Homo sapiens: one gene and its partners. The protein of the gene in region 1 interacts with the protein of each later gene in a pairwise test. Each region holds a gene or a part of one and is shown in the gene's direction. Other genes may lie near its edges.

Region 1 (3,500 bases):
ACCAGTAAGTTTTCCAAAATAATTGTACCATTTACTCTTTCTGTAAAAAGCATAGATATTTTGAATTTCTTGCCTTTTTTTCTGTGTTCACCTTTTCTTCTTGGAAGTAGACAGCTGGCTAACCAGCAGGAGTTTGGGACCGATGACAGTGCAAAACATCTTGACTGACAATGGTGGTGGCTTATTAAAGTGAAGAATCAGCATCAAGAGGGGGAATCGGTGTATTCCTTCTATTTCTAGGCCATTGGGATATAGGTCGTTATGGGACCCCAGGTAGTAACCCAGCTCATTCTGAAATAGAGCTGAGAAATGACAAGGATTAAGTGTTGCTTTTCAGGTAGAGTGCTATTTTGGACCCTTGGCACAGATTTTGGTTCTTTATTATGATAAGTACCAAGAAGGAAAAGAACTGGGTCTATTAGAGAAAATTAATGAGGGGGATTAATTAGTTTGGGATCTAAGACTTATTTGAGGTGGTGACATTTAAGCAGGATGCCGAGGGGTATTAGCCAGATGGAGAATGGGAGAGGGAAGGAGTTGCTCTGTATCTCTTCAAGCTTGAAGAAATGGCATGTGCAAAGGTGTTGAACAGCTTGAGATATCACCAAACATCCTTATCCAGGTCCAGGAACTTTATCCCAGATACCATTTCTGTTATTTGTTGCTTTCTATAATATTTTAAATTAACTAAATCACACACATTCTCTTTTTCATCATTACTTGGTAAGTGGAATGTTTTGATTTTCCCTTCTGGTTATGATTTACATGTATTAACTTATTAATACACGAAGATCAAAAAGTGACCAAAATTGTTCAAAAGGTACAATTTATTATAGGATAATTATAATTATTTCATGCTGACAATATGTTTATAAGTGTTTTGCAGTAACCTTTTTGTTTCTATAATTTCATGGTAAGAAAGAAAATGAATTAGGTAGAGCTAGTAATACCAGGTATAGACAAGAATGTAGTATTTAAAGCTAATATCTGAAATTCTCTTCTTGCATCTGCTAACTGAACGAGAAAATTCTGTGTGTGAGAATGGAAAACTTTGGGTGAAAAGTGAAAACTTGGATTTTGTAGTCCAGGCCCTTAATTAAGTAGATAACACACTCAGAAGGAGAAAATTTGGGGTGCTTTATATACAAAGGGACTATTTTTAGAGGTGTGTGTACAGGGATCTGGTGCTGCTTCATTTTTTAACCTGTTTATTGCGGTATGATTGACATACAGAAAGCTATAGACATTTAATGTATACAGTTTCTGTTTGGAGATAAGTAGATATTGTGAAACCATCCAACCATTATTACTACAAGAAATCAATGCCATCACCTTGAAAAGTTTCCTTCTACTCATCTTTTTTTCACGTTTTGTGATAAGAGCACTTAACATTAGATCTAACTTCTTAGCAAAATTTTAAGAATACAATATTGCTAATCACAGACACTGGGTTGTACCTGCAGATCTTATTTATTTTGCCTAACTGAAACTTTGTACCCTTTGAACAACAGCTTCCCATTTTGTTCTCCCCATGTTCCCTTACAACCACCATTCTATTCTCTGCTTGCATGTATTTGACTATTTTAGATTTCACATACATTGAGATAATACAGTATTTGTCTTTTTGTGTTTAGCTTATTTCACTTAGCATAATGTCCTTCAGGTTCATCCATGTTGTTGCAAATGGCAGGATTTCCTTCTTTTTTAAAGGCAAATTTGTTTATTCTCACATTTTTGTTGGGGTCCCTAAGGTTTTCTACATCTAAGATCATGTCATCTGCAAACAGATATTGTACCTCTTCTCTTTTTATTTGGATGTTTTTAATTTATTTTTCTTACCTAGTTATTCTGGCTAGGACTTAAAATACTACGCTGAATAGGAGAGGCTAAAGTAGGCAACCTTGCCTTGTTCCTCATCTTATGGGGAAAGCTTTCAGTTTTTTATCTTTAAGTATCTTAGCTGTGGGCTTCTCATAAATGGACTTTATTTTGTTTTTCCTTTACCTAATTTGCTATAAGGTTCTTCCATACCTAGTTTATTGGGAGTTTTTATCACAAAAGAGTATCGAATTTTGTCAAGTGCTTTTTCTGCATCTGTGCAGATGCCCATGTGAGTTTTATCCTTCATTCTATTAATGCAGTATATTACATTGGTTGGTTGTCATATGTTGAACCATCCTTGCATCACAATGAAAAATCCTACTTGGTCATGGTATATGATTCTTTTAATGTGCTGTTGTGTTTGGTTTGCTAACATTTCATTGAGGATTTTTACGTCTATATTCATCAAATGTATTAGACTGTAGTTTTCTTGTAGTGTATTTGTCTGGCTTTGGTATCAGGGTGATGCAGGCCTCAGAATGACTTTGGAAGTGTTCCCTCTTCTTTTTTTTTTTTTTTTAGATATGTTTAATAAGGTTTTGTATTAATTTTTCTTTAAATGTTTGCTAGAATGTATCTGGCTCTTGGCTTTTCTTTGTTGGGAATTTTTTGATTATTCCATCAATCTCCTTTTTTGTTATTTGTCTATTCAAGCATTCTATTTCTTCTTGATTCAGTCTTGGTAAGTTATATTTTTCTAGGAATTTACCCATTTTTTTTTAGATTGTCCAATTTGATGGCATATAATTGTTCATAATAGTCCCTTATGATACTTTTTATATCTGTGGGATCAATTGTGTCCTCTTTCATTTCTGATTTTGTTTGAGTCTTCTATTTTTAAAGTCTAGCCAAGGATTTGTTGATTTAGTTTGTCTTTTCAAAAGAGGAACTTTTAGTTTTGTCAATTTTTAAAATTGTTTTTCAATTTTCTATTTCATTTATTTCTAATCTAATCTTTATTATTTTCTTCCTTCTGCTAATTTTGGATTTAGTTTGTTCTTTTTCTAGTTCCTTGAGGTGTAAAGTTAGGTTGTTTTATTGAGACCTTTTTTTTTTTTTCTTTGAGACAGAGTCTTGCTCTGTCACCAGGCTGGAGTGCAGTGGCGTGATGATCTTGGCTTACTGCAACCTCCGCCTCCCGGGTTCAAGTGATTCTCCTGCCTCAGCCTCCCGAGTAGGTGGGAGTCCCAAGTAGGTGGGACTAGAGCCACGCACCACCATGCTCAGCTAATTTTTGTATTTTTTGTAGAGATGGGGTTTCACCATGTTAGCCAGGATGGTCTCAATCTCTTGACCTAGTGACCCGCCTGCCTCAGCCCCCAAAAGTGCTAGGATTATAGGCGTGAGCCACTGTGTCCTGCCTCTTTCTTCTTCTTAATGAATTTATTGCTATAAACACTTCTCTTATTCTGCTTTTACTGCATCCTATATGTTTGGGTATACTGTGTTTTTATTATTGTTTGTCTTGAGATATTTTATAATTTCTGTTTTGATTTATTCTTTGACCCAGTATTATTTAATAGTATGTTATTTAATTCCCCTGTATTTGTGAATTTTTCCATTTTCTTTCTATTATTGATTTCTAGTTTCATTCCCTCGTGATCAGACAAAATGTTTAG
Region 2 (2,740 bases), on another chromosome or scaffold:
CTCAAATAACTTGCTCAAATTCTTGTTAATTGGTAAGTAGTGAGGCAAAGACTCAAAATATTTGGTTGACTCTAAAATGAATGCCTTTGACCACCATAATATATAACTGTTTCTTATTATTCACGGATTCCATATTTGTGAATTTGCCTACTTGCTAAAATGTGTATCCACCAAATCAATACTTGTAGCACTTTTATGGTAATTCTCAGACATGCACGGAGAGGTGAAAATTTGAGTTGTGTGAAGTTGAGTCCCCAGCCAAGGAGCCTTCTTGTTTCAGCTCTCAGGCTAGAAAATAGTGTCCATTGCGCAGTCTATCTAGTGCCACTTTTTTTGTTTTGCCTTCTTGTGCATTTTGTTGGTGATTTTGCTGTTAAAAATGGCTTCTGTACCATTCCAAGTCAAGTGCTGTCTAGTATTCCCAATCACAAGAAGGCTATGCTGTGCCACATGGAGAAAACACATGTGTTAGAGAAGTTTTGTTTGGGCATGCGTGACAGTGCTGCTGACGTGAATTTGATGTTAATGAATCAACAATACGCACTAAATGAGGTTATGTATTGCTTGGTTGACAAAACTGTGACCACAGGCTCACAGGAACATAGCCCTCTATTTCCTGTAGGAGCAATGGTTCTATATTTGCTAATTCAGTATTGGAACTGACTTCATAGAACAGAACTCACTGGAATGACAAGGATAGGCCACATTTCCTTGTGAGGACCCCAAGAAGCAAAAGCGCCCACTGTGGCCAGGCCAGACAATCAGACGGGGCTTATTTGGGGATGTCCTGGCCCCTTTGTCAGCCAGCCCCAAGTGTGTCAGTCCCATCGTTAACGCTGGGCTTTCCCATTCTCTCCCGCAGAGGGGCACAGCCGAACCCTTCCCGAGGCTCCACAACTTGTACAGCACCCCTCGCTGCGCGCAGCAGGCCGCCCTGCCCCGGCTGAGCCGCAGGATGGCGAGCCAGCACTCCTATCCACTGAACCGCTTCTCCTCCGTGCCTTTAGACCCCATGGAGCGCCCCATGTCCCAGGCCGACCTGGAGCTGGACTACAACCCGCCGCGGGTGCAGCTCAGCGACGAGATGTTCGTGTTCCAGGACGGGCGCTGGGTAAATGAGAACTGCCGCCTGCAGTCTCCCTACTTCTCCCCATCCGCCTCCTTCCACCACAAGCTGCACCACAAGAGGCTGGCCAAGGAGTGCATGCTGCAGGAGGAGAACAAGTCTCTGCGGGAGGAGAACAAGGCCCTGCGCGAGGAGAACCGGATGCTCAGCAAGGAGAACAAGATCCTACAGGTCTTCTGGGAGGAGCACAAGGCCTCGCTGGGCCGAGAGGAGAGCCGGGCCCCCTCGCCACTGCTGCACAAAGACAGCGCGTCCCTGGAGGTGGTGAAGAAGGACCACGTCGCCCTGCAGGTGCCCCGTGGCAAGGAGGACAGCACCCTGCAGCTCCTCCGGGAGGAGAATCGCGCGCTGCAGCAGCTGCTGGAGCAGAAACAGGCCTACTGGGCGCAGGCAGAGGACACGGCCGCCCCTGCCGAGGAAAGCAAGCCCGCCCCCTCACCCCACGAGGAGCCCTGCAGCCCCGGGCTGCTGCAGGACCAGGGCTCCGGCCTCTCCTCCCGCTTCGAGGAGCCCAAAGGGCCTCCGGCCCGGCAGGAGGACTCCAAGGAGCTGCGCGCCCTGCGGAAGATGGTCAGCAACATGTCCGGGCCCTCCGGGGAGGAGGAGGCCAAGGTGGGCCCGGGCCTGCCCGACGGCTGCCAGCCCCTGCAGCTGCTGAGAGAGATGAGGCAGGCGCTGCAGGCCCTGCTCAAGGAGAACCGGCTCCTGCAGGAGGAGAACAGGACCCTGCAGGTGCTACGGGCAGAGCACAGGGGCTTCCAGGAGGAGAACAAGGCCCTGTGGGAGAACAACAAGCTGAAGCTGCAGCAGAAGCTGGTCATTGACACCGTGACCGAGGTCACCGCGCGCATGGAAATGCTCATCGAGGAGCTCTACGCCTTCATGCCGGCCAGGAGCCAGGACCCCAAGAAGCCTAGCAGGGTCTGAGGCCTCGGCCTTGCACCGGGACGCCGAGTTTGGGACACCGAACACTGGGCAAAAGAGAATCCCCTGCCTTCCTTTGTCGTCCTCGCCTTCCCCAGCCAGTTCGTACCTATTGAAAAGCAGCGTTAGCAGCCTTCCTAAACTCAGAGTTTTAATAAAGGTGTGAGGAGGCTGGGGCCAGTTGACACCAGCATGCTGCCTTTTTCTTTCTTTCTTTCTTTCTTTCTTTTAATAAAAGATAGACAATATTTTAGAGCAGTTTTGGGTTCACAGCTAAACTGAGCAGAAAGTACAGGGAGTTCCCATAGACTCCCGTCCCACAAATGCATAATCTCCCGCATTATCACCATCCCTCCAGAGAGGTACACTAGTGACAGTCTTTGAACCTACATTGACACATAATTATTCCAAAGTCCGTAAGTTTGTATTAGGGTTTGCTGCTGGTGTTGTACATTCTGTGGGTTTGATCAAATGCATAGTGACATGTAGCCACCATTGTAGTACCATATAGAGTATTATAGAGTATATGTAGTACCATATAGAGTATTTTCATTGCGCTAAAAATCCTCTGTGCTCTGCCTGTTCATCCCTCCCTCCCCCTCCAGCCTCTGGCCACCACTGATCTTTTTTACAGTCTTCATAGTTTTGCTTTTTTCAGAATGTCATATAGTTGGAATCGCCAAGTGTGGA
Region 3 (3,500 bases), on another chromosome or scaffold:
TCACTGCATCCTTGAACTCCTGGGCTCAAGTAATCCTCCCACCTCAGTCTCCCAGGTAGTTGGGACTACAGGCACGTGCCAACAAGCCCAGCTAATTTTGTATTTTTTCCTTTTTTTTTTTAACTGAAATTACATAACTGAGATAATTTTTGTCTTTTTGTAGAGACAGGATCTCACTGTGTTGCCCAGGCTGGTCTTGAACTCCTCAAGTGATTGCCTCAAGTGATCCTCCTGCCTCAGCCTCCCAAAGTGCTGAGATTAGAGGCATAACCCACTGCAACTGGCCTGAAGTGAATATTTCTTTTAAATTGTGTTGAGCATAGACCATAGGGAAGCAAGGGTGGAAGCAGAGAGACTGGTTAGGAAACTAAAGTAATAATCCAGGTGACAGAATCTGGATACATTTTGATAGTATAGCCAACAGACTTTGCTGACAGATTGTGTGAGAGTAAGAGTCAAAAATGGCTTCAAAGTTTCTAACCTGAGTAACTAGAATGGAGGAAGTGCCATTTACTATTATGGGAAAATCTGCAGATTTGTGAATGGGAGAGAGAGGAAAGGTTGGTATTTTAGCTTGGCCACGTTAAGTTTGAGATGCCTCTAAGAAATTCACATTGAGATGTGGAGGTGGAGGAGGCAGTTGAATAAATGAGTCCAGAAGTGAGGAGAAAGATCTGGCAATAGATATAATTTTGGATTTTATAGTAGTGTTTTGATAGGAGTTGTTGATATCACCAAAAGTGATATTCTATGGAGTTTGGGTGGATTTGGAGTTCTCTGCAAAGGTGACTGAAGGAGCAGCCAGTGAGCAGAGAAAAACCCACTGTTCAGTAGGTGTTCTAGAAGCAAAATGAAGAAAGTAATTAAGGAGGAAGGAAAAATAAGTTATGTTAAATGTTGCTGTAGGTCAAATGAGATGAGGATTCATAATTGACCAGTACATTTAGCAACATGGAGGTCATTGGGATCTTGATAAGAAACTTTTGGTGGAGTAAAGGGTACAAAAGCCAGATGGGTACTTTTATTTATTTATTTATTTTTATTTATTTATTTATTTTTGAGAAGGAGTTTTTGCTCTTGTTGCCCAGGCTGGAGTGCAGTGGCGCTATCTCGGCTTATTGCAAGCTCCGCCTCCCAGGTTCAAGTGATTCTCCTGCCTCAGCCTCCTGAGTAGCTGGGACTACAGACACCCGCCACCATGCCCGGCTAATTTTTGTATTTTTAGTAGAGACAGGGTTTCACCATGTTGGGCAGGATGGTCTCGATCTCCTGACCTCGTGATCCACCCGCCTCGGCCTCCCAAAGTGCTGGGATTACAGGCGTGAGCCACCGTGCCCAACAATGGGTACTTTTATTTAGTAGAGTATGGGAGACAGCGAGTATGGATGCAGCACTCTTTTACTGTGTTCTTTGTCCAGATTGTTCTAGCCTGTCTTTAACTCCTCTTCTTGCAGGTCTTTGCTCAAATAATCATTTTCTCAGAGGTGTCCCTGATCTAATTAAATACTCTTCTTGTAAATAGACCTATTGCACCGTAAACCTTGAGTTGCTCTTATGTTACCAATTAGTTTTGCAGTTGTGCCATGATTTGATTAAAGTGTGTTTATTTCAGTAGAGCTTAAGCACACAAGAGGAACTACTGTGCTTGTTTTTGTTGATCATCTTATCTCTACCTCTGAGTACAGTGCCTGGTACCTAGTACAAACTTAATAAATGTGTGACGCAAGAATAAAGGAATGAATGAATGGAAGAATGATATAATGCCACAGAACTTTCAAAGGTATGGCATATTTATCTATCATTTACAAAAACACAAAGTAATTAATGGATGGACGAGGGTACATTATAATAAAAACATTTTAGAAAGTTCGTCCTAAAAAAAACAAAGCCGGGCACAGTGGCTTATGCCTATAATCCTAGCACTTTGGGAGGCTGAGGTGGGCCGATCACTTGAGGTCAGGAGTTTGAGACCAGCTCGGCCAAGATGGTGAAACCCCGTCTCTACTGAAAATACAAAAATTAGCCAGGCGTGGTGGTGGGCGCCTGTAATTCCAGCTACTTGGGAGGCTGAGGCAGGAGAATCGCTTGAACCCAGGAGGCAGAGGTTGCAGTGAGCTGAGATCGTTCCATTGCACTCTAGCCTGAGTGACAGAGTGAGATTGTCTCAAAAAAAAAAAAAAAAAAAAGAAGAAAGAAAGAAAGTTTACAGAATCTGTAGCCTAGGAAATGTAATTACTGGTCACATAAAATTTTATTTAATGTGATACAGTTTCACATTGTTTAATTCAGAGTTCTTATATTCATAATGTCTGCTTTTTGGCTGGGCATGGTGGCTCACACCTGTAATCCCAGCACTTTGGGAGGCTGAGGCAGGTGGATCACCTGAGGTCAGAAGTTCGAGACCATCCTGGCCAACATGGTGAAAGTCCATCTCTACTAAAAGTACAAAAATTAGCCAGGCATCATGGCACACGCCTCTAGTCCCAACTACTCAGGAGGCTGAGGCAGGAGAATCGCCTGAGCCTGGGAGGCAGAGGTTGCAGTGAGCCAAGATCGCACCACTGCACTCCAGTCTGGGCGACAGAGTATGACTCTGTCTTAGGAAAAAAACAAAACAAAACAGTCTGCCTTTTTTGCTGCAACATATCAATAGATGTTATGGAATTTAGAAGAACTTCTTTAGATCAGTAAATTTTCACAGTTACATTTTAGAAGAGTAATTAATTAGGGAACAGATATTGAGAGGTTTTGCTAACTTTGGTCATGGACCATGGAATCATGCAGTATGTTGCCTTTTAGACTGGCTCCTTTACTTAGCAATGTGCATTTATAGTTATTTTATGTCTTTATATGTATGGCTTGGGAGCTCATTTGTTTTTATCACTGAAAAATAATCCATTGTATGGATATATCACAGTTTGCTTATTCACCTTTTGAAGGACATCTTAGTTGCTTCCAGTTTTTATCAATTATGAATAAAGTGTCCTAAAAATTTATGTGCAGGCTTTTTCTGGGCAAAAAATTTTTAACTCATCTAGGAATATGATTGCTGGATCTCAGGTAACCCTATGTTTAGCTTTGTAAGAAACTCACAGCTGTTTTTCTTTTTCTTTTTTCTTTTTTTTTTTTTTTGAGACGGAGTCTCACTCTTTCGCACAGGCTGGACTGCAGTGGCGCCATCTCGGCTCACTGCAAACTCCGCTGCCGGGTTCACGCCATTCTCCTGCCTCAGCCTCCTGAGTAGCTGGGATTACAGGCGCCCGCCACCGCGCCCGGCTAATGTTTTGTATTTTTAGTAGAGACGGGGTTTCACCGTGTTAGCCAAGATGGTCTCGATCTCCTGATCTCGTGATCCGCCCGCCTCGGCCTCCCAAAGTGCTGGGATTATAGGCGTGAGCCACCGCGCCCAGCCATACAGCTGTTTTTCAAAGCAGCAGTACCATTTTCTATTTCCCACCAATGAATGAGAGTTCCTGTTGCGCCCCACCTTTGCCAGGATT
Region 4 (3,705 bases), on another chromosome or scaffold:
CACCATGTCCAGCTAATTTTTAAAATTTTTATATAGAAGCAGGATCTCTCTATGTTGCCCAGACTGGTCTAAGTCCTGGGCTCAAGGAATCCTCCTGCCTTGCCTTCCCAACATGCTAGGATTACAGGCATGAGCCACCACCCAGCCCAACCCTTAAAACTTTTAACTGACGCTTAGCATGGCACCAAAATAATATTTATTGAATGTATTCTGGTGCCAACCTCTGGATGCATAATTTCATCTGACCCTCACAACAGTCCTGCAATGCCCATATGATGAGGCCCCACTTCCCATTCCACCTTGCTGGAACTGGAGGTCAGGGAAACTTAGGGAATTTGCCCAAGAGCCCATGAGTGAAGAGTGGTAGAGGAGATTCAAATTCTTTTTCTCTACCAGATCCAGTGCTTTTCCCATTAGCCAAGGGTGCCTCAACAAGGAACGAGAATCCCACAAAATTGGAGGAAAAGGGAAAAAAAAATGTGATTTCAACATGGTGTTCACTAATGCTATTGCAGAAATGTGCACGCAGCATTCACATTTTGACAAAAGCAGTAATTACCATATTAGGAAATAGAGTCGTCTTCTACCTTTTCTAAAAATCTTAAAAAGTAAACATTAAAGCATACTTTGGGCTTGCTAACTTAAAAGGCAAATGGGTGGTGTCGCGTCCACAGCCGTTCTATTTGACCACATTGCAGAGGTACACACGTGCAGGACGGTGATTCTGCAGCTAAGGGTACCTCCTCCCTGAGACTGCACCCCGGCCCTTCTCCCCACCCCTTCCATTCTGAGGGTGACGCCTTCACCTGGGCTCTCTTAAAATCCTGCTGTTTGTGTGCAAATGCGAGTTCAAATTTCTCCCTGAAACACTGGTGGGGGACACTATGCACCCTCAGCTTTAAATGTCACCCTGATTTCCTACATATTCCCTCCTCCAACATACAACCCCTCTCTCCCCCACCCGACCCCCACCACCCCCATCCCCAGCCTCCTGTCCTTCCCATTCCAGGTGCTCCGGGTGCTAGCAAAGCTGGGGTGGGCGGCGCCGGGCAAGGTCTGAAGACTGCGAGGACCCAGCTGCCAGGCGCATTGTGAAGTGGCCCGAGCGTCACAGGCGACCCGGACCTCGGGACCGGGGGGCAGGGCGGGTGTCTGCAGCGTCCTCGGGAGGTCTCAGGCCCCTTGGGCAGACGCTGCGCGTGCCCAGAGGGAGGGATGGCAGGCTTCAGCCACTTCTCCCAGCCGCCCTACCGGGATCTCTGGGAACCCCCGCGGCCCGGCGGAGAACGAGAGTCCACGCAGCGGCTGGGCGGGCAGAGGTCCGGAGCCGACTCCACCGCGTGCTCCCGGGCCGGGACTCCGGGTGCGGAGAGCGAAGCTGGGGCGTGCTGGCTGCACCCGCACTGTTCGTTCACCCCGCGGCCTCGCAGGCGCGGGTGCTCAGATTCACTGCGGGGCAGCCGAAGCCTGAGCGATGTGGCCCGCAGGCCCCTGGAACGTTCCAGGAAGCACCGGCCCCGCAGCAGGCGCCTGGAAGATGCCTGGGGAGAGACAGGAACCAAGCCCCGCCCGGCTTGGCAGCCGCAGACCCAGCTGCCACCCCAGCGGCCGCAGCCCTGCCCGCATTACCCTCTGGCCCAGGGAGACTCGCCCCCGCCTTGCCCCGGAGGAGCTGGCACTCCCCTGAGTGGCACATTCAGGGTAGAAAAGGCACAGGGTGGAGACCAGTGGGCAGTGCCACTCGGCAGACATCTAGGTCGCTGGTCCCCTTCCTCAGTTCCCTCGGAGCGGTCTTCTGTGCCCTCGCAAAAGTTCAAGAGGCACTCAGCCTGCGTGTGCGCCCAGAAGAGAGACAGCAGCGACCAGGTTGAGTCATTAGCCAGCCGGGACTCCCAGCCCTTGGCCTCCAGCAAAGAGATGCGGAGCCCGCACACCCAGGTCCTGAAGAGCAAGCTGGAAGAGGTGGTGGTGTCCTCCCAGGACCAGCAGATTGTGGCCCTGGTGCTGACCCGTCTCAAGAAGGCCCAGAGGATACGGGAGCTGCAGCAGCAGGCGGCTAAGGCCTGGGAGGAGCTGAAGCGCTCGGATCAGAAGGTCCAGATGACCCTGGAGCGGGAGCGCCGGCTGCTGCTGCGGCAGAGCCAGGAGCAGTGGCAGGAGAAGGAGCAGCGCAAGACCCTCCAGAGCCCTGAGCAGCGCGGCCTGCGGCGGGACAGCCAGAGGAAGAACGTGCCCCCGGGGGAAAGCCGGTGGAAGGAGCAACCAGAGGACCAGGAGAGCCCGCGCCAGGAGAAGCTGGAGAAGGCGCGCGCCCAGGCAGAGCACCGAAAACAGTGCCAGGTGCGGCGCCTGCGGGAGCAGGAGAAGATGCTACGGAACCTCCGGGAGCAGCACAGCCTGCAGCTGCAGAGGAGGCTGGTGGAAGCCTGTCGCAAGAGGCACCTACATGCCGTGGAGGGCCAGAAGAAGGTCCAGGACACCAACCTGAGCTCCCTCATCAATTACCAGGCCCGGAAGGTCCTCATGGACTGCCAGGCCAAGGCTGAGGAGCTCCTTAGGCAGCTGTCCCTGGAACAAAGTTTCCAGCGGTCCCAGGAGATACACCAGGGCCTGAGGAAGGAGCGGCAACGCGAGCTGAGGGAGAAGGCCCAGAAGGAGGAAGAGCAGTTGCAGCAGGCCAGGTGGCGCGCAGGGGAGTCAGAGGAACAGAGGAAGATGCGCAAAAGAATTCTGGTGGAGCTGGCGGATGAGAAGATCCGACAGGCCAGGAGTCACGTGCACAAGACCACTAGGGACAAGGTGCAGCACCTCCGGGAGCTCAACCACCTGAGGGAGAAAAACCACCACATCCTGAAACTGAAAGCCGAGAAGGAGGAAAAGTGTCACATTGAGGGCATCAAGGAGGCCATTAAGAAAAAGGAGCAGAGGGTGCAGCACATTTCCCAAGGGAAAGACCCAAACTTCCAGGAGTTCCAGAAGCTCCCTCAGGCCTCCAGGAGAGAGGAGAGAGCGCCTCCCAACAGCTCCCTTGATCAGATGGTACTAGAGGCCCAGCTCCGTGCCTGTCAGCAGAACAGGGGTTACTGAGAACCAAGGACGCCTGGCTTACAGTGCGCAGCCAGAAGGAGATGTGGCAATGTGATTCCTTTTGTAATCTGATTATAATTGAACATTGATTTTAAAAAAGCATGTAAAATAGCTGCAATTTCCTCTCATGAACTGGTTTATTGATTCACTTGGATAGTTTAGAGGGTCGGAGAGAAAATTTTGGGAATTTTTGTTTTTTTAAATTATACTTTAAGTTTTAGGGTACATGTGCACATTGTACAGGTTAGTTACATATGTATACATGTGCCATGCTGGTGCGCTGCACCCACTAACTCGTCATCTAGCATTAGGTATATCTCCCAATGCTATCCCTCCCCCCTCCCCCCTCCCCACCACAGTCCCCAGAGTGTGATATTCCCCTTCCTGTGTCCATGTGATCTCATTGTTCAATTCCCACCTATGAGTGAGAATATGCGGTGTTTGGTTTGTTGTTCTTGCGATAGTTTACTGAGAATGATGGTTTCCAATTTCATCCATGTCCCTACAAAGGACGTGAACTCATCATTTTTTATGGCTGCATAGTATTCCATGGTGTATATGTGCCACATTTTCTTAATCCAGTCTATCATTGTTGGACATTTGGGTTGGTTCCAAGTC

Evidence for each region. The genes of interacting proteins can lie anywhere in the genome.
Region 2: the proteins of CEP44 (region 1) and CBY2 interact in binary tests that used the Homo sapiens proteins (3 or more experiments, as listed by UniProt).
Region 3: the proteins of CEP44 (region 1) and CEP57L1 interact in binary tests that used the Homo sapiens proteins (3 or more experiments, as listed by UniProt).
Region 4: the proteins of CEP44 (region 1) and CCDC185 interact in binary tests that used the Homo sapiens proteins (3 or more experiments, as listed by UniProt).

What each region holds. Positions count from the first base shown.
Region 1 is NC_000004.12:174,286,911-174,290,410, forward strand, and holds part of CEP44 (centrosomal protein of 44 kDa), read left to right. Parts: intron 1-3,500. UniProt on the Homo sapiens protein: Centriole-enriched microtubule-binding protein involved in centriole biogenesis. In collaboration with CEP295 and POC1B, is required for the centriole-to-centrosome conversion by ensuring the formation of bona fide centriole wall.
Region 2 is NC_000013.11:45,712,320-45,715,059, forward strand, and holds the end of CBY2 (protein chibby homolog 2), read left to right. Parts: intron 1-862; coding exon 863-2,053; 3' UTR 2,054-2,240; downstream 2,241-2,740.
Region 3 is NC_000006.12:109,098,507-109,102,006, forward strand, and holds part of CEP57L1 (centrosomal protein CEP57L1), read left to right. Parts: intron 1-1,685; exon of another isoform or gene 1,686-1,780; intron 1,781-3,500. UniProt on the Homo sapiens protein: Centrosomal protein which may be required for microtubule attachment to centrosomes.
Region 4 is NC_000001.11:223,392,261-223,395,965, forward strand, and holds CCDC185 (coiled-coil domain-containing protein 185), read left to right. Parts: upstream 1-1,154; 5' UTR 1,155-1,215; coding exon 1,216-3,087; 3' UTR 3,088-3,205; downstream 3,206-3,705.